7 separate regions of the Homo sapiens genome follow, and regions 1, 2, 3, 4, 6 and 7 are each linked to region 5. The links come from fine-mapping of genetic effects on gene expression. A gene starts in region 5. Each other region holds a variant in brackets. All regions are shown on one strand. Distances are from middle to middle.

The links. PIP is the estimated chance that this variant, and not a neighbour inherited with it, causes the effect.
Region 1: its variant is fine-mapped to the expression of NUDT2 in hypothalamus (GTEx, PIP 0.98).
Region 2: its variant is fine-mapped to the expression of NUDT2 in anterior cingulate cortex (GTEx, PIP 0.96).
Region 3: its variant is fine-mapped to the expression of NUDT2 in sigmoid colon (GTEx, PIP 0.94).
Region 4: its variant is fine-mapped to the expression of NUDT2 in whole blood (INTERVAL, PIP above 0.99).
Region 6: its variant is fine-mapped to the expression of NUDT2 in whole blood (TOPMed, PIP above 0.99).
Region 7: its variant is fine-mapped to the expression of NUDT2 in sun-exposed skin (GTEx, PIP above 0.99). The same link has a PIP of 0.9 or more in gastroesophageal junction and left ventricle.

Annotation. Positions count from the first base shown.
Region 1 is chr9:33,599,349-33,603,447 of GRCh38, reverse strand. It overlaps the pseudogene CYP4F26P. Among named protein-coding and RNA genes, the nearest start is that of PTENP1-AS, 76 kb to the left of the region's middle. RefSeq lists an enhancer at 2,494-3,434. The variant T/C (reference allele first, on the strand shown) is at 2,463.
Region 2 is chr9:34,407,055-34,411,153 of GRCh38, reverse strand. The region is part of intron 1 of FAM219A (family with sequence similarity 219 member A); the gene reads left to right. Among named protein-coding and RNA genes, the nearest start is that of SPMIP6, 11 kb to the right of the region's middle. The variant C/T (reference allele first, on the strand shown) is at 1,734.
Region 3 is chr9:34,213,094-34,217,093 of GRCh38, reverse strand. All of the region lies in intron 1 of UBAP1 (ubiquitin associated protein 1), which reads right to left. Among named protein-coding and RNA genes, the nearest start is that of UBAP1, 36 kb to the right of the region's middle. The variant T/G (reference allele first, on the strand shown) is at 1,612.
Region 4 is chr9:34,203,225-34,207,224 of GRCh38, reverse strand. The region is part of intron 1 of UBAP1 (ubiquitin associated protein 1); the gene reads right to left. It also overlaps the pseudogene RNA5SP282. Among named protein-coding and RNA genes, the nearest start is that of UBAP1, 26 kb to the right of the region's middle. The variant C/T (reference allele first, on the strand shown) is at 1,664.
Region 5 is chr9:34,327,923-34,332,021 of GRCh38, reverse strand. NUDT2 (nudix hydrolase 2) reads right to left here and starts at 2,453. Exons shown (of 5, transcript NM_001161.5): 1 at 2,423-2,453. KIF24 (kinesin family member 24) reads left to right here and starts at 2,754. Exons shown (of 13, transcript NM_194313.4): 1 at 2,754-2,916. RefSeq lists enhancers at 2,508-2,697, 2,233-2,740, 2,828-2,927, 3,028-3,087.
Region 6 is chr9:34,422,131-34,426,229 of GRCh38, reverse strand. The region is part of intron 1 of FAM219A (family with sequence similarity 219 member A); the gene reads left to right. LOC124902145 (a long non-coding RNA gene) reads right to left here. Exons shown (of 3, transcript XR_007061465.1): 2 at 3,493-3,592; 3 at 1,385-1,644. Among named protein-coding and RNA genes, the nearest start is that of SPMIP6, 26 kb to the right of the region's middle. The variant G/C (reference allele first, on the strand shown) is at 2,135.
Region 7 is chr9:34,358,449-34,362,508 of GRCh38, reverse strand. No RefSeq gene overlaps it. Among named protein-coding and RNA genes, the nearest start is that of MYORG, 16 kb to the left of the region's middle. The variant C/T (reference allele first, on the strand shown) is at 2,020.

The DNA.
Region 1 (4,099 bases), 730 kb after region 5:
ATGATGGTGTCTAAAGTTGTGCACCAGGTCATAGGCCCTGCAGAAACATCTCCCCTCAGGAGTGAGGTAGTACAGGAAGTCCATGCACAGGCAGATCTGCTGGTGCCATTACACTATGAGGGCATGGAGCTCCAAGATGGTGGCAACATAGTCACTAGAATTCCTACAGGGTAAGGCTGGGGAGAGGAAGTAACTGCATAACACATATGATACCCTGGAAGCACTTCCCAGCCAGTCTCAGGACCACATTACATCCAGATACAGGTGCCCTCTGAGCACACTTCTCTGCCTCCCACTCTGAGCTGCCTCCTGGCCCCACATGGGCAGCCTGGCCCAGGGCTTGGAGCCCAGCAGGTGTTCAGTCCATGGTGTTGACTGCTCCCTGGGCCAGGAGAGCCCTTGGTGACTCTGTGACTCCTCCTGTGGAACCTCTGACTCTGCCTTGGGACCTCCCAATTCCCATGGAAAGCCCCCATGGCTCTGGATTGCCCCACGTTGCCTGGGATCATCCAGCCCCGTAGGCCTAACTTGATGCCTTAGCCCTCCCAGAACATGACATGTTTCTCAGAATGTGGCTGATGTCCAGGGCCATCTGTGGATGTTTGCTGGGGGCCTCTTGCTGTTCTCCTTTATGGTCTGTAGGGCAGGGCAAGGCCAAAAGAAGAAACCAATCCAACCTCAGAATGGACAAAATGCTCACTGCCACAAACGGCAACCACCTACAGTCAGCAGTGCTTCTGGATGGAAAAGAGGTTTCATTCTGCAAAACGCTCCTTGTTGGCTTCTTTCTGAAGCCAGGGAAGGGTACCAAGCCCAGCTTACCTGCAGTGCCTACATTAGCATCTGTGCCTAGGATGTGCGATGGGCCCCTGCTCCCACTGCAGGGTTGACGTTCCCTCCAGCTGGAGACCTGGGCTCCTGACACCACCTGGCCTGTTTGTCCTGCTCTGGATGAGGGTGGAAAGGCTGTATCTGGCATTTTCCTAGGTCCTTAGTTTCCATCTTCTAGACATCCAGCAGGAGTGACCATGCCCAGCCCCACACCTGAAATGGGACTCCCTTGTAGAGCCGCTGAGACATCTACAGACAGAAGAGTGCTCTGGTGAGACAGGCCACAGGGGTCCCCAGGGAGGGTTGGGGGCCAGCAGATTCTGAAGGTTTCCAGTCTTGGGCTCTGTGGTTCCTCAAAGAGGTTAGGTTTACCTAAAACCAGGCCTCTCCTCCAACGATTGAAAGAGTGGATGAGTGCTCTGCATCAGGAACTCTGATCTGGACCTATTTTTTCATGTAGGTCACCAAGAGACAACCCCTAACCTCTGAGCTAGGGATGGTCCAAGCTCTGGCATGAGATTTTCTTCTAGCAACGTGATGCTTACAGGGACAGGTAGAAAAGCTGGTGATCAGGCCTGCTGTCCTCCGGGTAAGGACAGTGTGCTACCCACCCTCTGAGAGGCCAGTGGTGCCAGGCCACAACACTGGGTGCCTGTACCCCTGGCTCTGCAGACACCGGTCATGGAGGCCCTCCCCTCTTCACATCACATTCTTGCTGCTCCTATATTTCTTCTAGTCATTAAACAATTTGGGCCATTTTTCTGTGCATCCAATCTGACTTTTTTTTTATTTTTTATTGATCATTCTTGGGTGTTTCTCGCAGAGGGGGATTTGGCAGGGTCATAGGACAATAGTGGAGGGAAGGTCAGCAGATAAACAAGTGAACAAAGGTCTCTGGTTTTCCTAGGCAGAGGACCCTGCGGCCTTCCGCAGTGTTTGTGTCCCTGGGTACTTAAGAGTAGGGAGTGGTGATGACTCTTAATGAGCATGCTGCCTTCAAGCATCTGTTTAACAAAGCACATCTTGCACCGCCCTTAATCCATTTAACCCTGAGTGGACACAGCACATGTTTCAGAGAGCTCAGGGTTGGGGGTAAGGTCATAGATCAACAGGATCCCAAGGCAGAAGAATTTTTCTTAGTACAGAACAAAATGAAAAGTCTCCCATGTCTACTTCTTTCTACACAGACACAGCAACCATCCGATTTCTCAATCTTTTCCACACCTTTCCCCCTTTTCTATTCCACAAAACCGCCATTGTCATCATGGCCCGTTCTCAATGAGCTGTTGGGTACACCTCCCAGACGGGGTGGTGGCCGGGCAGAGGGGCTCCTCACTTCCCAGTAGGGGCGGCCGGGCAGAGGCGCCCCTCACCTCCCGGACGGGGCGGCTGGCCGGGCGGGGGGCTGGCCCCCCACTCCCTCCCGGATGGGGCGGCTGGCCTGCCGGGGGCTGACTCCCACCTCCCTCTCGGACGGGGTGGCTGCCGGGCGGAGGGGCTCCTCACTTCCCAGACGAGGTGGCTGCCAGGCGGTGACGCTCCTCACTTCTCAGACGGGGCGGCTGCCAGGCCGAGGGTCTCCTCACTTCTCAGACGGGGCGGCCGGGCAGAGACGCTCCTCACCTCCCGGA[T/C]GGGGTCACGGCCGGGCAGAGGCGCTCCTCACATCCCAGACGGGGCGGTGGGGCAGAGGTGCTCCCCACATCTCAGACGATGGGCGGCCGGGCAGAGACGCTCCTCACTTCCTAGATGGGATGGCGGCCGGGTAGAGGCACTCCTCACTTCCTAGATGGGATGGCGGCCGGGCAGAGATGCTCCTCACTTTCCAGACTGGGCAGCCAGGCAGAGGGGCTCCTCACATCCCAGACGATGGGCGGCCAGGCAGAGACGCTCCTCACTTCCCAGATGGGGTGGCGGCCGGGCAGAGGCTGCAATCTCAGCACTTTGGGAGGCCAAGGCAGGCGGCTGGGAGGTGGAGGTTGTAGCGAGCCGAGATCACGCCACTGCACTCCAGCCTGGGCACCATTGAGCACTGAGTGAACGAGACTCCGTCTGCAATCCCAGCACCTTGGGAGGCCGAGGCTGGTGGATCACTCGCGGTTAGGAGCTGGAGACCAGCCCGGCCAACACAGCGAAACCCCGTCTCCACCAAAAAAATAGGAAAACCAGTCAGGCGTGGCGGCGCGCGCCTGCAATCGCAGGCACTCGGCAGGCTGAGGCAGGAGAATCAGGCAGGGAGGTTGCAGTGAGCCGAGATGGCGGCAGTACAGTCCAGCTTTGGCTCGGCATCAGAGGGAGACCGTGGAAAGAGAGGGAGAGGGAGACCATGGGGAGAGGGAGAGGGAGAGGGAGAGGGAGGAGAGGGAGAGGGAGAGGGAGAGGGAGAGGGAGAGGGAGAGGGGGGGCGATCTGACATTTTTGCTCTCAGATGAAACATGATAAAGGAAGCCAAGCTGCCAGGATTCCTGGAGGGGACCTTGGGTGCTGGGTCTTGGGCTCCAGGGCCCTAATGGGACTGAACCAGAAGGAGCCAGGGAAGGGCAAACACTGGGACTGAGGCCCTAGGACCCAATGGCCATTGGTGGCCAGACCTTATGGCCCCAACATACCCTGTCCTCAGGCCACAGACATCATGGGCTTCAGTCAGGTCCCAGCCTCCCAGTAGTGTCCTGGTACTAGCAGGTGCTGACCCCTGAGCCACGACCATAGTTCTGGGTTTTGGGTTTTGGTAAAACCACCTCAGGGACAGAGTTCTGGGGTTGGGTTTGGCAGGAACCATGGTGCCTCCCAGGGATGGTGTGTCACTCCTACTTGCCACAAAATGTGCACAAAGGCTGTCCCACTGTCCAGCCCATCCTGCTGGACAGGATGGAGGAAGTCAGGGAACAGGTAGGGTGGACATCTGGGGTGCAGGGAGAGGCAGGTGCATGCTGGGAGGTCAGACCCTGTGAGGGCTGTGGGGGCATCAGTTGGAGTGGGCTCCAGGTGCAACCTCAATGCACTAGGCAGGTCTCAGGCCAGGCTCCCTGGACCCCGGCTGGGTGATGTGGTCACTCCCTGGGGGACTGCTGTCAGGCCCTGGCCACCCACCCTGGGGAGCACTGTCCCATCTCAGGACTGGACTTTCTGAGTCCTGAGACAGGACAATACTGTCTAGGCCTGACAGACTGGGAGGACCTGTTAAGTCCTCCATCCCTAGACCAGCCTCCCACACAGCAAGGACAGTCTCTTAGCTCTACCTTCAGGGCACTGACTGATCCTGCTCACTCTA
Region 2 (4,099 bases), 79 kb before region 5:
CATCACCCTAAGGAGGGCACACCTTTTCTACAGATACCTTCATATATAAGCCAGGCTCCAACCTATGTGGTGTCAGGGCTACAGCTACAGGCCAGCCACTCCCAGGGCACACTGACCATGATAGTATAGGCCTCACTGAACCTATACTAATGATATCTTTACAGTTAACATGGATATAGTGCTAAGGGTATACTATGCTAAGGACTATTCTAACTGCTTTAATACATATTAACTCCTTTCATCCTCACAAGAACCCTTGAACTAGGTATTAGTGTTAGTCCCATTTATAGATGAGGAAGCTGAAACCCAGATTGTACAGCTACTAACTGGAGGAGCTGGAATTTGAACCTAGGCACTCTGGCTCCAGAGTCTGTGCTTTTAACCATTACAATCTTTCTTTCAGTCTGTGTGGCAAGGAGGATGGGATTGTGTAGATTGTCTTCCTTTAGTCAGAGCATCCCCTTGGCACTGAGAGTGAGGTCAGCCCATCCAAGCCATATGTCTGTTGCCCAGTGGAGGAGGAGTATAATTTGAATGTTGGGGAGGCAATCACATGTCTACTGGGTACTTATGAGAATCAGATAAGCTCGTGGATCTGAAGACATACATTAGGAACTACAAGACCCTCTACAAGTTTTATTTTTTGCCACCTAGAGTCCTACCAGAGTAGCCCATAAAAGTCTGCGGGTCATTCAGGAAAGCAGACTCTTCCATCTACTTATCCAGATCCTCCTTCTTAAGACTCCAGGCATGAGCCTTGAAGGTTCCACACTTTGGTTTTTTTCATTTGTTTCCCTTTTTTACCACCCAATTTTATCCTGCTTATTTGGGATCTCTTGGGTCCCAGCCTACCATTGTATTGACTGCACTACCCACAGCTCCAACAAGTGAGGCCAGCCAGCTAAAGACAGTTCATGAGTTGGTACAGCCCTGGGGCAGGGGGACAAGGGAAGAGGTTAATATGCAGACTGATGCTTGGGCCTGCAGGAATGGAGCAGCCTCCCAGAGGGCCTGTCTTTAGCTCCAAGCCCAAATCATGTTCTCTTCCCTATGTCCCTCCCTGCATGCTTTGAAAGGTTATTGACTCCATCACTGACTTTGGGTAAGACACTTCCCCTCTCGGCCCAGGTTTCCTCATTTTTAAAAAGAATGGGTGATGATATTTGTTGAAGCTGTTGATAGGTACCTATGATCTCACTATACTATTTTCTCTACTTGTTATAATTTCCACAATAAAACATTTTTAAACATTTAAAATCAAAAGATTTCAACCTTTTTTAAAAAATAGAACCTTTTCTCCAACCAAAAAGTTGCAACAGGCTGATATATAAATGAAATAAAGGTGAATCTACTCTTATTAAAGGGAAACCAGACCCACATCCTATAGCTTCCCCTTCACAGTCACTCAGGGAACACAGTTTAATGAAAATCAGTGGACCAAACTATTATAATTCTAAGGATTCTTCTGATGCTTTTGCCTTCCTCTAGCTATATTGGCTTTGCACTAGCCATTAGCCTATATATCCTGTCCCAGAAACAGTGAGGCTGGGCTATTAATCATCTCTGTAGTCTTCAGAGAATTTATTTGAAGGGTTGCAGAAACATGGGCTGCTGTTAGAGATGCATTTCAATGTCTGTCTCTGCTGAGTGTTTATTAATAATCTTGTTAATCTCCACTCTAGTTCCCGGATCTAGCTAACGCCTTCAGATGTCCTTGGGGGGCACTTTAAATT[C/T]TCCCTGATTTCTTGGAGCCAGGCACTTCCTTCTGCCTGGAGTCTTTTCTGATACTTACATTCATGAATATTTTACATTTAATCTCCCTGATTACATTGCCATGCAATGGTTGTGGTGCATTGGCTGCATTTCTAAGGGAAGACATAGAGGAAGCTCATAGTAAAGGCTTATGTTTGCAGGCACAGTGCCAGAGATCTTTGTGCTTGCCACTAAGGTGGCCTTCTGTCATGGATAGTGATGGAGGAGATGCTGAATGGTGGGCTTTGCATGGGACCCCTCAGCCTAGGGCTCTGCCCCCTGGTCAGGCCCTCCTGAATTGTGGTCCAAAGGAGCTGGCAGTTTCATCCAGGATCAAATACCATCAGGAACTGCCCAGTAGGCCTCAAGGACCACATGTGAGTCCCTGTGACCAGAGTTGCTCAACAGCTTTCTAGCCCTGTCCTTCCTGTGAAATCTACCTCCCATGTTACCATTTATACCCAGTACCTCCAGACTGAGAGAAGAAACTTTGATGAACTCATCTGCACTGAGGAGTAAAAAGTTAGCTCCAAATGTCTAACGGATTGTGTTTTTAAAAATCAGCCCCAGGGAAAGGATGGTGAGGCCTAACACTCTCATGTGATAGATGGGTTAGAAGGTTAAGGAGGAGAAGCAGGATTGAAACGCCACAGATTTAGAAGTCATCAGTGTAAAAATGCCAATCAGAACTATAGGAGACATCAGGGCTCCCCAAGGAGAGAGAGGAGGGCCAAGGGCAGGACCCTACAGAGGAGGCAAAGGGTTGTGGGAGGACAGAGAAATGATAGTCAAAGAGGCAAGAGATGAGCCAAGGGAGGAAGCCTTTTCCAAATGGATGTGGTATATGTGACATGTGACGAATGCTACCAAAAAAGTGAAGGAATGTGACTTGGGACTTAGAAATGTGCCAGTGCTGCCCTGGTAGGGTCCTATCAGCATGTTTATGGGATTTGCCCTTTAAAAAGCCTTCCCTCTGGCTGCTTTGCAGTGAGCAGTCTCTGGGGCTCACAGGAAATCCAGAGCCCAGCTGTCCCATCTCCACCTCCCTTGCAGGTAGCAGCTGCTGAGAGGCTGTTTTGGCTGCAGAGAGGCATGTCAGGGCCACTAGAGGTTTGCTTTTCCAAGGCTGTGCAGGACAGGTGCTGTCTATTAGTCTCTCAAGGAGGTTGCTGAGCCAGGGAGGATGAAGGACTTGAAGCATGGGAAGTTGCCCAAGATGCAGGCACTGCGGCACCCAGCCTCTCTGAGCAAAGCCTCCTGCCCTTCTTCTACTCAGTCAAGGCTAAGGGCTAGGGATCAAAGCAGGAGAGGGAGGCACAGGTTTTGCCCTCAGGAACTTGCAAACCACTGTGGCAACACAACCCACCCAGAGCCTTGTGCTCTGGATGGCCTGAAGGAACACAGACAAGGCCAGGATTTCCCTCTCAAACCTGCTAGACTTTTCCCTTTCCCGTTAGTGACAAGCATGTTTTCATGCCCACTGCCTCATTTTAAAGGGAACAGAAGCCACCATAATGGTTATATATCCTTCCCTTGCCAGGTCACCAGCAACCACTCAGATCCCTGGGCCTGACACTGTGGCAGCATTCTACATGCCCATCTGTCTACTCCCTGCATCCGCAAAGGCAGAACAGGCAGCAGCCTTGGATCCCCTCTGCACTCCTCGCACCTTAGGCTTAGCAATCTACAGGCCCTGGTTAAAATGCAAAGACAAGGGAAGAGGTTAATATGCAGACTGATGCTTGGGCCTGCAAGAATGGAGCAGCCTCCCAGAGGGCCTGTCTTTAACTCCAAGCCCAAATCATGTTCTCTTCCCTATGTCCCTCCCTGCATGCTTTGAAAGGTTATTGACTCCATCACTGACTTTGCGTAAGACACTTCCCCTCTCGGCCCAGGTTTCCTCATTTTTAAAAAGAATGGGTGATAAGTTGATATTTGTTGAAGCTGTTGATAGGTACCTATGATCTCACTATACTGTTTTCTCTACTTGTTATAATTTCCATAATAAAACATTTTTAAACATTTAAAATCAAAAGATTTTAACCTTTTTTAAAAAATAGAACCTTTTCTCCAACCAAAATGTTGCAACAGGCTGATATATAAATGAAATAAAGGTGAATCTACTCTTATTAAAGGGAAGCCAGACCCCCATCCTATAGCTAGGATGGCAGCACCCCTGTCAATATTTGGTCCTCAGAGTCTCAGGGAGAATGTGGATGACTTCAGCCACTTGCACGGCCCTGGATCTTGCAGCAGAGGAGGGTGTTTGGGAGGGGATGGCAAGGCTAGATAAGGACTCTTAGCAAGGTATGGTGGCTCATGCCTGTAATCCTAGCACTTTGGGAGG
Region 3 (4,000 bases), 110 kb after region 5:
ACACCCTTCCCAAAAGAGTAGAGAGTATAATAGTAATTACCAGAGGCCGGAGAGGTGGGGAGGGTAGTAAAGGGAAGGGCAGGGAGTGGGATGGGGAGAAGTTGATGAATGATTAAAGTTACCATCACATAGGAAGAATAAGTTCTGGTATTCTATTGTACAGTAAGGTGACTACAGTTAACAATAATATATTCTATATTTCAAAATTAACTAGAGCTCAGGAGTTTGAGACCACCCTGGGTAATATGGCCAAACCCCATCTCTACTAAACATACAAACATTAGCCGAGCATGGTGGTACGCACCTGTAGTCCCAGCTACTTGGGAGGCTGAGGTGGGAGGATGGCTTGAGCCCAGGAGGCAAAGGTTGCCGTGAGCCATGATTAAGCCACTGCACTCCAGCTTGGGCAAGAGAGCCAGTCTCAAAAAAAAAAAAAAAAAAAAAAAAAAAATTAGCATGGTGTGGTGGTGCATGCCTGTAGTCCCAGCTAATCAGGTTCACTTGAGTCCAGGTGGTAAAAGGCTGCAGTGAGCTATGATCGCACCACTGCACTGCAGCCTGGGCAACAGAGTGAGACCCCAGCTCTAAAAAAAATTTAAAATAAAAAAAAGAAGACATAAAAGTTCACAAATATTGTGTGATGCCATTCATATGAGGTGTCCAGAAAGGGAAAATCCAAAGAGACTGAAAGCAGACTGGCGGTTGCCTGGGTCTGGGAAAGAGAAACTGTGTAGTTGGTAAGGGTCTCCTTTGGAGTGAAGGAAAGGTTTCAGAACCAGATATGGTGATTACACAACACTATGAGAGTACTAAATGCCACTAAATTGATCATTTTAACATGGTTAATTTCATGCTATGTGAATTTCACCTCAGTAAGTTTTTTTTTAAATTAAATTACAAAAAAAAAAATGGCAGAAAAAAATTGGCAGCAGAGAGGTGCTCCAGAGGAGAGGGCCAGAAAGACGCGTGTCAATAACTTCCAAGTTTGAAAATCAGAGAGGCAATGAGGCAGTGAACAACTAGATAGAAGACCACAAGGAATAGTAAATGAAAAATAAAATACAGTTCTCTTTATTAGTAAATAATGTAAAATTTTTTAAATCATGCCTCAATAGAGCTGATAAAATATTTTTTTCCCATATTATATATTATTTTCCACAGTCCTTAAGAATATGAGAAATCTATATTTGGGCACATAAAGATTTTTCTAAGGTCCACTATGCAGCAAAACTTCAGTCTCTCAAAGCTCAAAGGCATTTTAATACCTATTTAGGGTCAGTTTTCTTCCCCCAGAACATCTTTTATATATATGTACATACATGTATGTGTGTGTGTGTGTGTACATATATATATGTACACACGTTTCACCAATAACTTCCTATACTTTTTTAAACCCTTTTTTTATTATTTATTTTTCCATAAGTTATTGGGGTACAGGTGGTATTCAGTTACATAAGTTCCTTAGTGGTGATTTGTGAGATTTCGGTGCACCCATCACCCGAGCAGTATACGCTGCACCCTATTTGTGGTCTTTTATCCCTCACCCCCCTCCAACCCTTCCCCCCAGGTCACCAAAGTCCACTGTATCATTCTTATGCCTTTGCGTCCTCA[T/G]AGCTTAGCTTTCACCTATCAGTGAGAACATTAGATGTTTGGTTTTCCATTCCTGAGTTACTTTACTTAGAACAGTCTCCAATCTCATCCAAGTCACTGCAAATGCTAATTCATTCCTTTTTACAGCTGAGCAGTATTCCATCATATATATATATATATGACACATATATACATACTTATATACATATATATACACACACACACACTATCATATATACATATATACACACAGCAGTTTATCCATTCGTTGATAGGCATTTGGGTTGCTTCCATGATTTTACACTTGTGAATTGTGCTGCTATAAACATACATGTGCAAGCATCTTTTTCAAATGACTTCTTTTCCTCTGGGTAGATATCCAGTAGTGGGACTGCTGGATCAAATGGTAGTTCTACTCTTAGTTCTTTAAGGAATCTCCACACTGTTTTCCAGAGTGGCTGTACTAGTTTACATTCCCACAGCAGTGTAAATGTGTTGCCTGATCACTGCATCCACGCCAACATCTACTGTTTTTTTATTTTTTTATTATGGCCATTCTTGCAGGAGTAAGGTGGTATCACATTGTGGTTTTGATGTGCACTTCCCTGATCATTAGTGATGTTGGGCATTTTTCATGTTTGTTGGCCATCTGTATATCCTCTTTTGAGAACTGTCTATTCATGTCCTTAGCCCACTTTTTGATGGGATTGTTTTTTTCTTACTGAGTTGGTTGTAGATTCTGGATATCAGTCCTTTGTCAGATGTATACATTATGAAGATTTTCTCCCACTCTGTGGGTTGTCTGTTTACTCTGCTGACTATTCCTTTTACTGTGCAAAAGCTCTTTAGCTTAATTGGGTCCCAGCTATTTATCTTTGTTTTTATTGCATTTGCTTTTGGGTTCTTGGTCATGAAATCCTCGCCTAAGCCAATGTCTAGAAGGGTTTTTCCAATGATACCTTCTAGAATTTTTTATAGCTTCAGGTCGTTAAGTCCTTAATCTATCTTGTATAGGATCCAGTTTCATTGTCCTACATATGGCCAGCCAATTATCCCAGTGCTATTGTTAAAAAGGGTATCCTTTCCCCACTTTATGTTTTTGTTTGCTTTGTCGAAGATCAATTGGCTGTAAGTATTTGGGTTTATTTCTGGGTTCTCTATTCTGTTCCATTGGTCTGTGTGCCTATTTTTATACCAGTACCGTGCTGTTTTGGTGACTATGGCCTTATAGTATAGTTTGAAATCAGGTAGTGTGATGCCTCCAGATTTGTTCTCTTTGCTTAGTCTTGCTTTGGCTATGCAGGTTCTTTTTTTGTTCCATATGAATTTTAGAAATGTTGTTTCTAATTCTGTGAAGAATGATGGTGGTATTTTGATGGGGATTACATTGAATTTGTAGATTGCTTTTGGCAGTATGGTCATTTTCACAATATTGATTCTACCCATCCATGAGCATGGGATGTGCTTCCATTTGTTTGTGCCATCTATGATTTCTTTCAGCAGTGTTTTGTAGTTTTCCTTGTAGAGGTCTTTTGACTCCTTAGTTAGGTATATTCCTAAGTATTTTTTTTTTTTGCAGCTGTTGTAAAAGGGGTTGAGTTTTTTATTTGATTCTCTGCTTGGTCACTGTTGGTGTATAGAAGAGCTTCTGATTTGTGTACATTAATCTTGTATCCAGAAACTTTGCTGAATTCTTTTATCAGTTCTAGGAGCTTTCTGGAGGAGGCTTTAGGGTTTTCAAGGTAAACGATCATATTGTCAGCAAACAGTGACAGTTTGACTTCCTCTTTACCAGTTTGGATGCCCTTTCTTTCTTTCCCTTGTCTGAATGTTCTGGCTAGGACTTCCAGTACTATGTTGAAGAGGAGTGGTGAGAACAGGCATCCTTGTCTTGTTCTAGTTCTCACAGGTAATGCTTTCCACTTTTCCCCATTCAGTATTAGGTTGGCTGTAGGTGTGTCATAGATGGTTGGGTTTTTTTGTTTTTGTTTTTGAGACAGAGTCTCGCTCTGTCGCCCATGCTGGAGTGCAATGGTGCGATCTCGGCTCACTGCAACTTCCACCTCCTGGGTTCAAGCGATTCTCCTGTCTCAGTCTCCTGAGTAGCTGGGATTGCAAGCGCCTGCCACCATGCCGAGCTAATTTTTGTATTTTTAGATGAGACGGGGTTTCACCATGTTGGCCAGGCTGGTCTCAAACTCCTGACCTCAGGTAATCCACCTGCCTCGGCCTCCCAAAGTGCTGGGATTACAGGTGTGATGTGAGCCACTGCACCTGGCCCAGAGATGGCTTTCATTACATTGAGGTATGTCCCTCGTATGCTGATTTTGCTGAGAGTTCTAATCATAAAGGGATGCTGGATTTTGTCAAATGCTTTTTCTGCATCTATTGAGATGATCATGTGACTTTT
Region 4 (4,000 bases), 120 kb after region 5:
AAAATACAAAAATTAGCTGTGGCGGGAGCCCGTAATCCTAACCCACTCCAGAGGCTGAGGCAGGAGAATCACTTAAACCTGGGAGGCAGAGGTTGCAGTGAGCTGAGCTCACACCATTGCACTCCAGCCTGGGCGACAAGAGCAAAATTCCATCTCAAAAAAAAAAAAAAAAAAAAGAAATAACAATTAAGCAAACGCAGAAAAAAAAGAAAAAATCTCCGAAGAAAATGGAGACTAGCCTATCAGATATTAAAATATTAGAAGATACAATACTGAAAGCTGTGTCGTACTGGTACAAATACAGATTAGTGGAACAAAGTAGAAATCCCTAAAAATACCCAAAATATAAACATTTGGTATATAATAAAGCTGCTTTTTAAAATCAAGTCATGGGACAACTGGGTAGTCACCTAGAAAAAAGCAGAATCCGATGCTTGCTTCACACTGCATACCAAGATAAATTCCAGATGGATCAAAGGTATAGTAACATTATGCAACTGACCAAATGTAGAAATACTATTTTCACTCTACACATACAGCTAGCGAGCCAAAATAACCTAAGTTTCTAAGACTTCAAATTTAAGAAAATACCTGGCTTATGAAAAACTCGGAAAATGAAGGGTTTTGGTTTGTTTTTTTTTTAAGTCAAGATGCTGTAATACATAAGTTTTGTCACTAACTGATTTTAGTCTTACTTTTTTCTTTTCTTTTTTTTGAGACAGGGTCTCACTCTGTCACCCATGCTGGAATGCAGTGGCACAATCTTGACTCACTGCAGCCTCAACCTCCCGAGCTCAAGTGATCCTCCCACCTCAGCCTCCTGAGTAGCTGGGACCACAGGCACCCAACACCATGCTCGGCTAATTTTTTGTAGAGATGGGATTTTGCCGTTTGGCTCAGGCTTAGTCTTATTTTTCAAATGAGGTTTTACCAAAGTTATTAATTGTAAGGTATCCTTAAGGCTTATAAGCAAAGCAATTAGTGTCTACAACCAAACCACCCTGAACGCTCCTGATCTTGTCTGATCTCAGAAGCAGGGTTGAGCCTGGTTAGTACTTGGAAGGGAGAAACACAACTAGTGACTGAATACAAAGCTCATTTCAAATAGTTTAATAAAAACAGATTACAGTTGAAAAGCAACTCCCTAAAAATTACAAAGTGACAAATAAGTACATAAACTAGTACTGTAAACGCAAATTATTGACCCAAACTGTTTTTTGTTTGTTTGTTTTTTGAGACGGAGTCTCGCTCTGTCACCAGGCTGGAGTGCAGTGGCACGATCTTGGCTCACTGAAACCTCCACCTCCGGGGTTCATGCCATTCTCCTGTCTCAGCCTCCTGAGTAGCTGGGACTACAGGTGCCCGCCACCACACCTGGCTAATTTTTGTATTTTTAGTAGAGACGGGGTTTCACCATGTTGGCCAGGCTGGTCTCAATCTCTTGACCTCGTGATCCTCCCGCCTCAGCCTCCCAAAGTGCTGAGATTACAGACATGAGCCACCACGTCCTGCCAACCCAATCTGATTTCTTAAGATCTGCAGCTAATTCCAAAATGGGTCAATAAAATCCAGACAAAGATTTCCCTTAGCTCTGGTCTCCTCTTAATCCTCCAAGCATCTAGTACAGTGTCTAATCTTTAGCAGGAGTGGCTTTTCACTTACT[C/T]TCTCCCTTCAAACTTTCTGAAAATTTAATAGCTAATTGTACAACTAATAATTATACCTAACATGTAATTTCAGAATACAACTAGACAAAACAATATCTTTAAAATGAAAAAGCTAAAACAATAATCTCTTGTAGTTACCAATAAAAAGTCTGAAATTATAAGTCTTGTGAGACTACCATAATGGAAGAACAGGAAAGTAATGACTAGTTAAAAATCAGAATGGGAGTCATGACTTCAAAGCATTAGCCAGGGCTGGGTGTGACTGCTCAGGCCTGTAATCCCAGCACTTTGGGAGACTGGAAGATCACTTGAGCCCAGGAGTTCAAGACTAGCCTGAGCAACATAGTGACAACCTGTCTCTACAAAAAATACAAAAACTGGCCAGGTGTGGTGGCACACACCTGTAGTCCCAGCTACTCAGGAGGTTGAGGCAGGGGACCACCTGAGCCTGGGGAGGTCGAAGCTGCAGTGAACAGTGATGGCGCCACTGCACTCCAGCCTGCACTCTCACTCTGGGTAACAGAGTGAGAACTTGTCTCAAAAAAAATAAAAATTAAAGCATTAGCCAATCAGAAATTTCAAGTCAGCATCTTAACCAATTCATTACAATTTATTTAAAGTATTTTCTTCAGAGAGTTCAGTGCAGTGTCCTCAAGAGGAAATCTGACCACGAACCTATCAATTTAATTCTTGCAACTGAATAAAGACTGGTTGGCAAAAAAATAATGTCAACAAGTTATTGAACCAAAAATATAATTTCCTTCCCAACTCCAAAAATCATATCACAATTCATACCAGAAGGCAAGAAAGACAAGAGCACCTGAGGCAATTAAAAGACTTGTAGAATGGGTAAAAACCTCTGAAATTTAAAAAAAAAGAACTTTTAGGGCTTCTTCCATAAAACAAGACTACTACTGGAGTAAATGATCTCTGGAATTCTTTCCAGAATTAAAGGACTAGAGATAGATTATTTTCTAACTATGAATTTCACTGGTTTTTCTAGTCTTATACATATTAAAAAGATAGCACAAGACTTCATCTTAATTCTGAGGGCACATAAAAACAAACGGGTGTTTTCTTCAAAAAAAAAAATGGGTGTGGACTGTGTATACTTACTTGACTCAGAAAGACAAGTATACTTGACTCAGCAAGTATATACAATCCACACCCTTTTTTTGTTTTTTATAAGAAAATCCTTACTATTTGATACTATTTTCCTCTACAAGTAACTAATACAATACTAACTGGTCAGTTTTTTGTTGTTGTTGTCTTGAGACAGAGTCTTGCTCTGTCGTCTGCACTCTGGAGTGCAGCAGCAAGATTCTTGTGCCTTAGCCTCCCGAGTAGCTGGGATTACAGGCGTGGGCCATCACACCCAGCTAATTTTTGTATTTTTAGTAGAGACAGGATTTCACCACGTTGCCTAGGCTGGTCTCAAACTCCTGACCTCAACTGATCCACCCACTGTGGCCTCCTAAAGCTCTGGGATTGCAGGCATGAACCACCACGCCCAGTCTCTTAACTGGTTAATTTTAAAACAAAAAAAAGTTATCATACTAGAAGCTATTAATTTGACCTGAAATAAGTAATTGCAAATATAATTTTTTGTTCTTCCTGGAGTCTTCAAACTCAGTGGATTGTATCATTCTGTTTCCATCATGTGAAACCTGAATGATTTTTCCCACAGAAATAATACAGCCTTGTTCACAAAACTTGAAAACTCAAATCCCCAGGGGAACACTGTAGGCCTAAAGGAAAAACAATATAAGGATGGAACAACTTCACACGGTGTCAAAGATTTATGGGGAGAGAAAAGGGGTTCTTAAGTAATTTCACATGCTTATGAAATATGTGTATGCTAAAATAAATGTCAGAACAGATGTCTTTAAAGTTCTATTAAATATTTAAGAAACAGATTATTCCTATTTTATTTAATCTATTCCAACACATAAAATGGAAACAAATATATATTTGTAGCTTATCAATTTATTCAGGATTTGTTTATTGTCTGTCTTCCCCACTTGCCTTTATGCACTACGAGGACAAATACCACTTCTGTCTCATTCACCATTACACCAAGCATAGTGCCCGGCCACAGTAGTGCTCAGTAACTCCTGCTGAATGAATGTTGCTGAATTCCAAGTTCTCGTATGAGATCAGCATAACACTGATACCAAAAACTGACAGAGAAAAGAGAAAAAAGAACCAGAAATGAAAGCATATTTAATTTTTGTTGATCCTTGTTTTTAGAGACAGGGTCTTGCTCTGAACAGCCCAGGTTGGAGTGAAGTGGCATGAACATTGCTCACTGCAGCCTCAAACTCCTGAGCCCAAAA
Region 5 (4,099 bases):
AACAAATGATTCCAGTTAGATCAAGGCAGAGGCTGTGAGAAAGGAAAGGAAGGGATGAATCTGAGAGATATTTCAAAGTAAAATGGACAATAGTGATATTTCATTGTCTAAGGGACAGAGAGATGTTTCATAAGCCAAGGGAAAGAGAAAGGCTTTGGTTTGAGTGCCTGGGTGGAGGAGGGGGTGCAAGTGAAGCATTTGTTTGGGACAAGTTGAATTTGAAGTGCTATAGTCTATCCATAAGATAAATGAACAGATGGGTCTAAAGTTCAGTGATCATCTCATCCTATCTCTTCATTTCCCAAGGTGGGAATTTACTTTTTTAAAATTATTTTTATTAAAACAATTTTTTTCTCCTCCCTTCTCTACCAAGACCACGGTGAAAATTTTCTATTAGAGCAAGATATTGCTCCTACCATAGGTACCTCTGCAGCTCACATTCCCTCCAATTTAGGTAAGTCAAGCTGTCCAACCTGCCCCTGCATCTGTCTGGTATTCCAAGCATTTTCATCCTCCTTTAGTCAGAAACACAGAAAAGCATGGCTGTCTATGCAGTCAGAAAGGCCTAGCTATTGAAGTTAATAGAGCAAGATACTTAGAGCAAGATACTTAACTTCCTCATTTGTAAAATGAAGTTAACACCTACTTTGCATGGTTGTTGTGGAGTTTATAAATGACATATATAGAGGGTCTGACATTATCAGAGGTACTAAATATATGAGTTACTGTTACCCGTGTGTCATAAAAGATCATCAAAAAGCTTCTCTGTTTTAAAGAAATGACTTTTCATCTTGTCTGTTAAACTGCTCAACACTGTTCACCACAGTATATATATTCCTTATAAGGTCCCACAGCATAAATTCCTTTTAATATAGAAACTAGAAAAATAATTTATCTTTTGAAGAATGGATTTGTTTCCTTATTAGTAAGAATTACCTTTTTTCCCTTAACTGACTAATTTTGGGCAAAATTGGGTACTCAGTTACAAAAAGTACACCAACGCACTGACTAGTGTATTTGCCTGTTCTTATTATAAGAATAATAGCTACCTTTTTTTTTTTGAGACGGAGTCTCCCTCTGTCGCCCAGGCTGGAGTGCAGTGGTGCGATCTCTGCTCTCTGCAAACTCCGCCTCCCGGGTTCGTGCCATTCTCCTGCCTCAGCCTCCCGAGTAGCTGGGACCACAGGCGCCCGCCACCACGCCCGGCTAATTTTTTGTGTTTTTAGTAGAGACGGGGTTTCACCGTGTCAGCCAGGATGGTCTCGATCTCCTGACCTCGTGATCCGCCCGCCTCGGCCTCCCAAAGGGCTAGGATTACAGGCGTGAGCCACCGCGCCCGGCCGCTACCATTTTTTAAGAAGTTACTACTCGCCAGGCGTTGTGTCAAGTGCTTTACCTTCATTATTTCACTTAATCTTCACAACAACCCGCTGAGGCATTACTGCCATTTTTCAGAAGAGTAGAAAGGGAACTATAGCTCAGAGATGTCTGGGTAAGTGACTCAAATGTAGGTCTGCCTGACTCCTAACATCAATGATCTTAACCTTAACTCTATAATAGCGTTTTACATTTGACAATTTGATTGCATTCAGTTTTTTTTTGTTTTGTTTTGTTTTTGAGACGGAGTCTCGCTCTGTCGCCCAGGCTGGAGTGCAGTGGCGCGACCTCCGCTCACTGCAAGCTCCGCCTCCTGGGTTCATGCCATTCTCCTGCCTCAGCCTCCCGAGTAGCAGGGACTATACGTGCCCGCCACGACGCCTGGCTAACTTTTGTATTTTGTTTAGTAGAGACGGGGTTTCACCGTGTTAGCCAGGATGGTCTCGATCTCCTGACCTCGTGATCCGCCCGCCTTGGCCTCCCAAAATGCTGGGATTACAGGCGTGAGCCACCGCACCCGGCCTGCATTGTTTACGCTGTCCCTTTTTTGTTTGTTTGTTTAAGGCGGTGGGGCTCTTGTTCGACTTTCTTTACTTCTGCTATAACTGCCACGATATTATCCATTCAATAACTGAAGCAATTAGAAAACATAAAATCTCTTTTGGAAAGCAGGCGGGGTTTAATGGGTAGCAACAAGTGAAACTGAGGCCCAGGGAGGGGAAGGTTCGGCGCCTGGGCCTCTGGGCCCTAAACCTGGACCTCTCCCGCCTCTGGGATTTGGACGACCCACCCTATCCCCACTCCGACGGGGACAAGCAAGGCTCAGAGTCAGGGAACCTCCCTTCTCCCGGTGCAGACAGGAAAACTGAGGTCCTGAGAGCGGATGGGACCTGGCCTGCCCACACCTCACTGCCAACTTAGAGGAGGGCGCATCCCTCTCGGGCCCTGCAGCGACCAGAGGTTTGCCAGAGGCAGATTCCCATCGCTCCAAGGCTCATTTCCTCCACTGAGAACTAAAATCAAGTGGGCCCTTAAGGGTACTCACCCGAAGCAGAAGGAGGTAGGAGGCGGACCTTGGACGGAAACTGAAGTACACCGGCCAATCAGAAGAGCCTGGTTACGCTTGGGCCCATCAATAGAATTCGGCAGAAGGATCTTCGACCCGCCTCAAAGGTGCGCGTCTCACACTGAAACGTCGCGAGATCTTCCCTCAAGCGGAACGATTGGCTGAAGGTCGGAAATTGAGAGTTACGCCCACGGTTTCTTCAGACCTCTGATTGGTCTTCCAGAGGAGAAGTCAACGAACGTCAACCGATTCCTTGGATGCCCATTGGTGGGCGGTGCGGGACTGGCGACGCGCGGGCCACAGCGCGGGCGTTCGAACTGGCGCTTGGCGGCGTTGCCATGGAGATGCGGCCTGGCCGCCGCCGGTGGCTCCCGGGTTGACGGGACTGTTAGGTTGCGGGCTTTGGGGCTCACTCCCGACGGCATTGTCTTCTCCTCTTCTCAGACAGGGCAGACCGAGGAGTTTGGACCGAGGTGAGAAAGGGCGGGGAGAATAGAGGAGGGGTAGGTCTGGTCCGGAACCGTGGCGCCTGCCCGCGGACACGGGTGCGCGTGACGTCGGCTGAGCGCGGGAGGAAACTGGCAGTTGTGAGGGAACCGAGAGTTGGCCCCTCTTGGCTCTTCCTAAAGTTCACCTACTTTCCTATCTTTCATCCCCATATCTCTGCCTTTTCTTCAGCAATTATCTTGAACGCCACTTCTCTCACTTTGGGAGACTAAACTCTTGAGTCCCAAAGCCTTCTTGCTTTTGAACCGATAAGCCTGACCGGCACCTCTTTTAGGGCATTTCTATTCGCCCTTGGGTTGTTTACTTCCGGGAAGCCCGTTCGCTTCCCTTTTCCCATAAAATTTTGAAGCCTTTGAGGTAAGGCAAGCATCGTTCACAATGTCTTGCACATAGTAGATTTTCAGGAAATATTTGTTGAGTTGAATTTAATTTACAAGAAATAGATTGGATTCCTCTTCATGCCCTGCCTTGTTGTCTCTCTGCTTCAGAGACGATTTTTTATTTCGAGGCTAGGGGGAGGCCACCCTAATCTTCAATGCAAAAGGACCTAAAAGTCCACACACAGTCCACAGCTGGCCTTTCTACTCTTTGTGAAAGGCTAAACTTTTTTGGATTGGTTGCTGCAACTCTTCCTGCATCTGTGGCTTTTAGCCTTGGTCTCCCAATAATTTTATTAGACTCCTTTTAGTCTTTGCTTAAAATAAACCATTCTGTTGCTGTATGCCAAGATAATTTATCTCCCTTTAGCTTCTTAGTGACCGGCAGCTATTGTCACATTTTAAGTGTGCTTTGGAAAATGTTTTAAAGCATCTTCTTTGTACTTGTATTCTACAAGTAGAGAGGCTTTGTAGTCTCTCTATTGAAGTGCATATAACAGCTGCTCAGGTGAACTCCATCTATTCATCAGGTGTCTATGATAGAATTGCGTTCCTAAGACTGTTTCGTTGTTAACTCATGGATTATATATTCACAGCCTGATTGTTGGTGTGATTGCTCCTTATATCAAATTCATAGCTCACTGGTGGCCTTAATAAAAGGAGTGAAAAAGTTCAGTACAGCAGCTATGTTCTTGTTACCCTTTTATAAAAGTTTGAAACACTACCTTATAGCTGTGACATGTAGTGGAAACCCACTACATGTGGGTTTGGC
Region 6 (4,099 bases), 94 kb before region 5:
TGTAAAATAGAAGGGAGTGGTGGAAAGAGTGAAAGTCATTATATAAAAAATTCAGGATCCTACTGCCTGTGAAATTAGGTGTCCATATAAAAGCCAAAATACTCCTTGAATGGCTATTCTGTGCTTCTGTGAAGCCCAGATGTGAAGGCCTTATAACTAACCCTCTGACAGCCACAAGGTTGCAGAGTAGGTGAAGACAAACTATTGCTCCCCTGATAGGAACAAAGGAATTTTGGAGTTTCTAATTCTAACCAAATTTAATTGTACAGAACAAGCATTCCCTTCACAACAAAAATATTTCAGCCTATTGGGTTACTTAAAATGCACCAAATAGCATAAAACATTCATTCAACTCTAACAGCATTCACAGACCTACTTTTGTAAATAGCCAAGCACAGGCTGTTCTTTCCCAGAATATGATTTTTTTTTTAAATAATGCAGTAGGTCCGCAAGGTCAGAGTTTTGGGAAAAGTCAGTCTAACCTCATTGAGGCTGCCAGTCCTCTGCCCTCGTGTGAGCCTGGCTTTCCTGCACCTCAGTGCACTGCCCACTCACTCATAGGTGTCAGTGTTTGCATGCAGGAGACAGAAGAACAAGGATCTCCCCTTAACACTAACTGCACATTTTTCAACTTCTCCAAGCACAGTGGAGGCATGCAGGTTACTGACTACATTACTGGCTCTGAAGACTAATAATTAAGTCAAGTGATTATTTTTATTTATTCATTTGTTTATTTTATTTATTTATTTAAGACAGAGTTTTGTTCTTGTTGCCCAGGCTGGAGTGCAGTGGCACGATCTCGGCTCACTGCAACCTCCGCCTCCCAGGTTCATGAGATTCTCCTGCCTCAGCCTCCCGAGTAGCTGGGATTACAGGCACCCACCACCATGTCCAGCTAATTTTTGTATTTTTGGTAGAGACGGGGTTGCACCATGTTGGCCAGGCTGGTCTCAAACTCCTGACCTCAGGTGATCTGCCTGCCTTGGCCCCCCAAAGTGCTGGATTACAGGTATGAGCCACTGTGGGCCTCATTTGTTTATTTTTACAGAAAACTATTATTGAAGGGTTTAAATGTGAGAAAGTTTTGACTAGGCATAAGGAATAATAATAATAAAAGTGAGAAAGGGCTGGGCGCGGTGGCTCATGCCTGTAATTCCAGCACTTTGGGAGGCCGAGGGGGTAGATCGCTTGAGCTCAGGAGTCTGAGACAAGCCTGGGCAACATGGCAAAACCCCATCTCTACCAAAACTACAAAAAATTAGCTGGGTGTGGTGGTACACACCTGTAGTCCTAGTTCCTCGGGAGGCTAAGGTGGCAGGTTGCTTGAGCTGAGGTGGAGATTGCAGTGACCTGAGGTCGTGCCATTGCACTCCAGCCTGAGTGACAGAGTGAGACCCTATTTCAAAAAACAAAAAGGTGAGAAAGCATGATTACCACATAACAGAGTATAGGTTCCATGGTTGAGCCTCCCTCTGGATGTTCACTGTTGGTGGAACAAGTGTTGTGGGTTCTGGGAAAATCGCAACGCAGGCTGCTCCTCTCTGTGTTCTGGATTCTCAGGCCACTCCTGGTAGGTCCGTGTTGGCTTTGGCCCCCTGCCTCAAGGACTAGAAGTCAAGGGTCTTTGCTGCTTTTTGCCATAGCCTGGGGACGATAGGCCAAAACTAAGTCAGGGGACTCTGGTGCAGCCAGAATTTGGGGCGACTACCCACCTAACTGCTTACTATTGCCTCTAGTTTGGCCAAGCCCTGGTCAGCCTCCCTTGCCTTCAGCCCACCCCTTGCCCACACTTCCTAAAAGATAGCAAATGTGCCATGATCTCTGGACCGTGACTGGACTTTTCTACTAGAGAATGTCTCTCGGTGAGGACTTGCAAGCCTCACAAGAATCAGACCCATAATTTCTTAGAACAAAATAAGTTTTTGCTGAAATATCAGCAAGCCTGAGAACAGCATCTTGAGTCCTCCCTCATGTCTTCAAACAAGTGGCCATTCTATGCTGGTTCTTTCTCCCGGCCTCAACTATTTTCCAGTCTCTCTTGTCATACAAGAGCCCCTCTAGGACTCCGGTTCTGGTTCCTCTGTCTTACATTATTCTTCTCAAAACTCTGCCTTTCCTAGACATCCATGACTCT[G/C]ATCTCTTCTTGGTTCCCTACCCCTCTGACCGTAGCTGTCAGTCTTCTGCTTACTTTTTCAATATTGGTGTTCCTTAATTTTTTTTCTCTAAGCCCTTCTTATTTATAAACATACACATATTTACACACAAAACAAAACCACAAGCCTTACTCTTATTTCTGTTTCTCCATCTTATTTGGTGGCATCACAATTCACGCAGTCACCTGAGTCAGGAGGAAACCTGGGAGTCATCCTAGCTCAAGTCTTTTCCCTCAAACCCAGATCCAGTCAGCCTTAGTGCCCCAGCGGTTTGACCTCAACATGTTTTTCTTCTCCACCTCCTTTTTTCCAACCCCACTGACACTGACTTTTTCAAGCTTTGTCACCTACTGCAATGACCTTTATCTAGCCTCCCTGCCTCCAGTTTAATCATTCCTGCCTATTCCTTGGACCTGCTCCCAGAGCAGTCAGTCTATCTAAATCTGACAATGGGCTGAAAATCCTTCAGTGGCTCCCCATTATTTCCAGGTGAAGTCCAAAACCCTGAACATATCTTACAAAGCCCTTCATGATTTTAAGTCTTCCTGTCATTCTAGACTCATCACCTGCCACTTCGTCCCCTAACATTAACATTCTAGTAAAATTGACCTGTTCTTTTTGCCTGCTCTATAGTCATGTGCATCTTTCCCACCAGTCCTTTCTCTTCTTTTTTCTTTTTGTTTGCCACTCCTTTCCTCATCTGGTTCACTAATACTTCCTATTCTTGCTTCCTCCATCAGTTTTCTTTGGAGAAGTCCTCCCTAATTCCCCAGAGTGGGATAGTTGCCTCTGTCCTGTACACATACAAACCTCTGTCATAGCACTCAGCATATGATTAAAATTATCTGCTTATTCACTTGCTTCACTCACTGGCTTATGAGCTCTTCATGGGCAGGGGCCTTATTATTGTTATTATTATTTAGAAGAAGGGGTCTCACTCTGTCGCTCTGTGCAATCATGGCTCACTACAGCCTCAACCTCCCAGGCTCAAGTGATCCTCCCACCTCAGCCTTCTGAGTAGCTAGGACTACAGACACGTGCCACCATGCCGGGCTAATTTTCTTTAATTTTTCTGTAGAAATGGAGTCCTACTATGTTGCCCAGGCTGGTCTCAAACTCCTGGGCTCAAGCAATCCTTCCACTTCGGCCTTCCAAAGTGCTGGGATTACAGGTGTGAGCCACCGCGCCCAGCCCATATTATTTTTATATGTCCAGAACCCAGCACAGTGCCTAGAATATAGATGCCCTTAAAATGTAGGACCAGAACTGAATTTGGTGGCTAAGGCCCCTTTCATCTCCTTTTCTTGCACTGCCCTCTTCTTTTGTCTCCTGGGCTCACCATTCTCAGTTTCCAACGCATTTTCTTTCTTGTTGCTTCCTGCCAGTCTCTCTCTCCATCTTGAGCTATCGACTGCTTCAGTGGCTCCAATATTTCCTTCCTGTGGAGAACTCAATTGAGCAGGAAGCTTGTGATCAGAAAGCATCCATGCTATTTTCTAAAGAGGGGCTACAAGTTTGTGTTGAGCTCCAGAGACATGATTGAACTAGGTACCAGCCTTCCAAGTGACTGCTTTGCAAGACAACAGTCCCACAGAGGTGTAAGTTCTGGTACGTTGTTAATCTCATGACTTTATCTAAGTCTCTGAGAAGGGGCTGGGGTAAGAGAGATGAGGAAATTAGATTCAAATTGCCTACCAGGTGTGACTTTGGACATATTACTTTATGCAACCTAGTTCTTCAATTTTAAAATGAAAATGATATTTGCCTTACTTGGTTTTGGGGAGGATTCAATGAAATAATATAGATAAAGCACTTAGCACCATGGCCGTACCTCTGGCAGGTATTTAAGCAACATTAACTAAATGACTGGATGAGTTTTGGAAGAACTACACCTGGGCTAAATTGTTCCGAACAACTCCCTGCCTGGATCCAGCCAGAGTTCTTAG
Region 7 (4,060 bases), 31 kb before region 5:
CTGGCTAATATAGTAAGACTCCATCTCTTTAAAACAAATAAATAGTTCTTTTCGTATAAGTAAATTTCTAGAAAAAATCAAAAGCACAAAATAAATTATTTTTTTTTTTTTTTTTCTGAGACAGTCTTGTTCTGTCACCCAGGCTGGAATGCAGTGGCGTGATCTCAGCTCACTGCAACCTCTGCCTCCCGGGCTCAAATGATTCTCATGCTTCAGCCTCCCGAGTAGCTGGGACTACAGGTGCGCACCAACACACTTAGCTAATTTTTTGTATTTTAGCAGAGACAGGGTTTCACTATGTTGCCCAGGGTGATCTCGAACTCCTGAGCTTAGGCAATCCACCTGCCTCAGCCTCCCAAAGTTATAGGATTACAGGCATGAGCCACTGCGCCTGGCCACAAAATAAATTACATTCTATTTAAAAAGTGATATACAATGATAAGCAAGATTTTAAATAGTGTAACACATATAATTTGACCCACTTTTAATGGACTTCAATGATCAATTATGATTTAGTCTAACTCTACTTTTAGCATAAAAGTTGGGTGAAACAAAAAGTCCAAAGATACATACAGCAAAAACTGTTAGAATTGAAGGCAGACTAGACATTTCAATAACAACAGCCAGGCGCAGTGGCTCACACCTGTAATCCTAGCACTTTGGGAGGCTGAAGTGGGAGGATTGCTTGAGCCCAGGACTTCAAGATCAGCCTAGGCAATATGGTGAGACCCCATCGCTATTATAAAAAAGAAAAGGGGCTGGGTGCGGTGGCGCGGTGGCTCATGCTTGTAATCCCAGCACTTTGGGAGCCCAAGGTGGGCAGATCACTAAGTCAGGAGTTCGAGACCAGCCTGACCAATATGGTGAAACCCCATCTCTACTAAAAATACAAAAATCAGCTGGGCGTGGTGGTGGGTGCCTGTAATCCCAGCTACTCAGGAGGCTGAGGCAGGAGAATCGCTTGAACCCGGGAGGCGGAGGTTGCAGTTAGCCAAGATCGCTCCATTGTACTCCAGCCTGGGCAACAGAGCAAGACTTCATCTCAAAAACAAAAACAAAAACAAACAAACAAAAAAATATATACATAAACATATATATATACATACACATACATACATATACACATATATATACATATATATAAATAACAATAATATTGGACAATCACCGTTTTTACTGAGCAATGACTGATGAAGTGTGTGTTGCTCTTTTGTTTTGTGTTTTAATTTTTTTCTACCAAAATAACACGTTGATGGGTTGTTTTTTCCCTTTACTTGTTTATTAAATACTTGATGAAGTTGAGAGGCACATTACCAGAATATACCGTATTGGCCCTCCTGCCTCTTTTCTTCCCTAGTTAATTTTTGGTTTGGTTAGAAGAGAGGAGGGTCCAAAACCATTGTCATTATCATGAGTTTGGCTTATAAATACCATGGTGAAGAGACACCTCAAGTATGTCTGTTTTTAAAATTCATCTTATGGGTTAACAAGCCAGCCTGGTGGGATGTTTGCCATCATCACTTAACCAGTAATGGTTCTGAAGGTTTTGTGTATCCACATGATCTTAGACCTTCTTTTAATGATTGTATTAACTTACAAGCTCAGGTACTGTTTTCCTTAAGACTGTCTTAGAGCACACTGACTGAATGTTAATGTGTGTAGCAAAGTGTTTACTTGCTTTAAATAACCAGCTCTGTAATCATTCTTTATGTTTCTAGCAGTCTCTGTAGTTGTCTTTCTTCAGAGAAATATTTTTCCTGGGGTTATCTTGTTTTTAGGGTGGTAAGATTTCATTCTTTTTTCCTTTTCTCCTGAGATCAATGCAGGTGGGTTGGTAAGGGCTGTTGTTTTTCAGTAGCATGTTAGGTATACTTGGGTGGATGGGACGGTTGTTAGTATTTTTTTAGAATCTTGCTTAATACTGTCCATTAGACCTTGAGCTATATTGGCAAAATGCTTTATTTATTTGTTTATTTACTTGTTATTATTTATTTGTTATTATTTATCTTGTTATGTTGC[C/T]GAGGCTGGAGTGCAGTGGTGTGATCATGGCTCACTGTAGCCTTGACCTCCTGGGCTCAAGAGATCCTCCCACCTCAACCTCCCAAGTAGCTAGTGCTTTATTTATTTATTTATTTATTTATTTTTATTTTTTAAGACAGAGACTCACTCTGTAGCCAAGCTGGAGTGCAGTGACGTGATCTCAGCTCACTGCAACCTCCACTTCCTGGGTTCAAGATATTCTCCTGCCTCAGCCTCCCAAGTAGCTGGGAGTACAGGCATGCGCTACCTTGCCCAGCTAATTTTTTTATACTTTTAGTAGTAAAAAAAGACCATGTTGGCCAGGATGGTCTCAATCTCCTGACCTTGTGATCTGCCCGCCTTGGCCTCCCAAAGTGCTGGGATTACAGGCCTGAGCCACCGCGCCCAGCCTAGTGCTTCAATTTTTAACTGCAGAAGATATGATTCAGTTGAGTTTATTTTTTTTTTTTAAGAAAAAAAGTAAATGCAGAATTGGGGGGATTAACATGGGCATGTTGCCTATGTTAGAATGATTAAGTTAAACCTCTTAATTTTTATTTGTCCAAGGCAGACATGATTCAAGGACGACGTACTACCAAAACAACTCCTCCGGCTGCAGAAACCATGCTGTAAGTTCCTCTGGGGTGCTGACTGCCTTTTGCCTCTTTTAACTGGATATTGCCATGGTGGTGTGAATTCTGTCAATTCACTGGATGGGTGGGGAAATCAACATTTCCCCCAAAGCTTTAGGCAAAAGTGAGTTTTTGTTTGTTTTTCTTTTGGCTTTCACCTTTAAATCTTAAATGCTATGATTGCAGGCTGCAGGTATGACAGGCAATAAGCAGGTGAAGAGCCAATGGAAAAGTGTTCAAAAACACCTGCGTTAGCTAACAGGCTTTTGAATGTATTGCTGTGGTCCACAGAGTAGGCTGGAGAAGGCAGCGGAGATGCTATATCAACTACTGCAGCCCTAAAACAAGGTTGGTGTCTCTGTGGACTTTAAAATTGTTCCTATGCAGCTTATTTTATTTTTGTTTAATCAAATAAATAAGAGGGTTTTTCCATGGCAAAAAAAAAAAAAAACAATAATAGTTGGAGATTTCCGTACCCCACTTTCAATAATACATAGAACAACTAGACAGAAGATCAACAAGGAAATAGAATATTTGAACAATACAAACCAGCCAGACCTAATACATCTATAGTATACTCCATGAGCAACAACAGAATATATATTCTTCTCAAGAGCACATGGAACATTCTCCAAGGTAGATAATCTATTATTCCATAAAACAAGTCTCAATGCATTTAAAAGGACTGAAATCATACAAAGTATATTCCATAGTCACAATGGAATAAAATTAGAAATTAATAACAGAAGGAAGTTGGAGAAATTAACAAATGTGTGGAATTTAAACAACAGACTCCTGAATAACCAGTGATCAGAGAATAAATCACAAGAGAAATTTAAAAATACTTTGAGATAGGCCAGGTGCGGTGGCTCATGCCTGTAATCCCAGCACTTTGGGAGGCTGACGCGGGTGGATCACCTGAGGTCAGGAGTTCAAGACCAACCTAGCCAAGATGGTGAAACCCTGTCTCTACTAAAAATACAAAAATTAGCCAGGCATGGTGGTGGGCACCTGTAATTCCAGCTACTCGGGAGGCTGAGGCAGAGAATTGTTTGAACCCGGGGAGCAGAGGTTGCAGTGAGCTGTGATCATGCCACTACACTCTAGCCTGGGCGACAGAGTGAGACTCTATCTCAAAAAAAAAAAAAAAAAAGAAAAAATACTTCAAGATAAGTGAAAATGAAAATATACTAAAACTTATGTAAGGCAGTGAAAGCAGTATTTAGAGGGAGATTTATAGCTGTAAACACCTATCACAAAAAAGAAGAAACACATTATGGAAAACAGTATGAAGATTTCTTAAAAAGTTAAAAATAGAACTACCAGATGATCCAGCAATCCCACTTCTGGGTATATAGCCAAAGGAAATGAAATCAGTATGTTGAAGAGATATCTACAATCCTATGTTC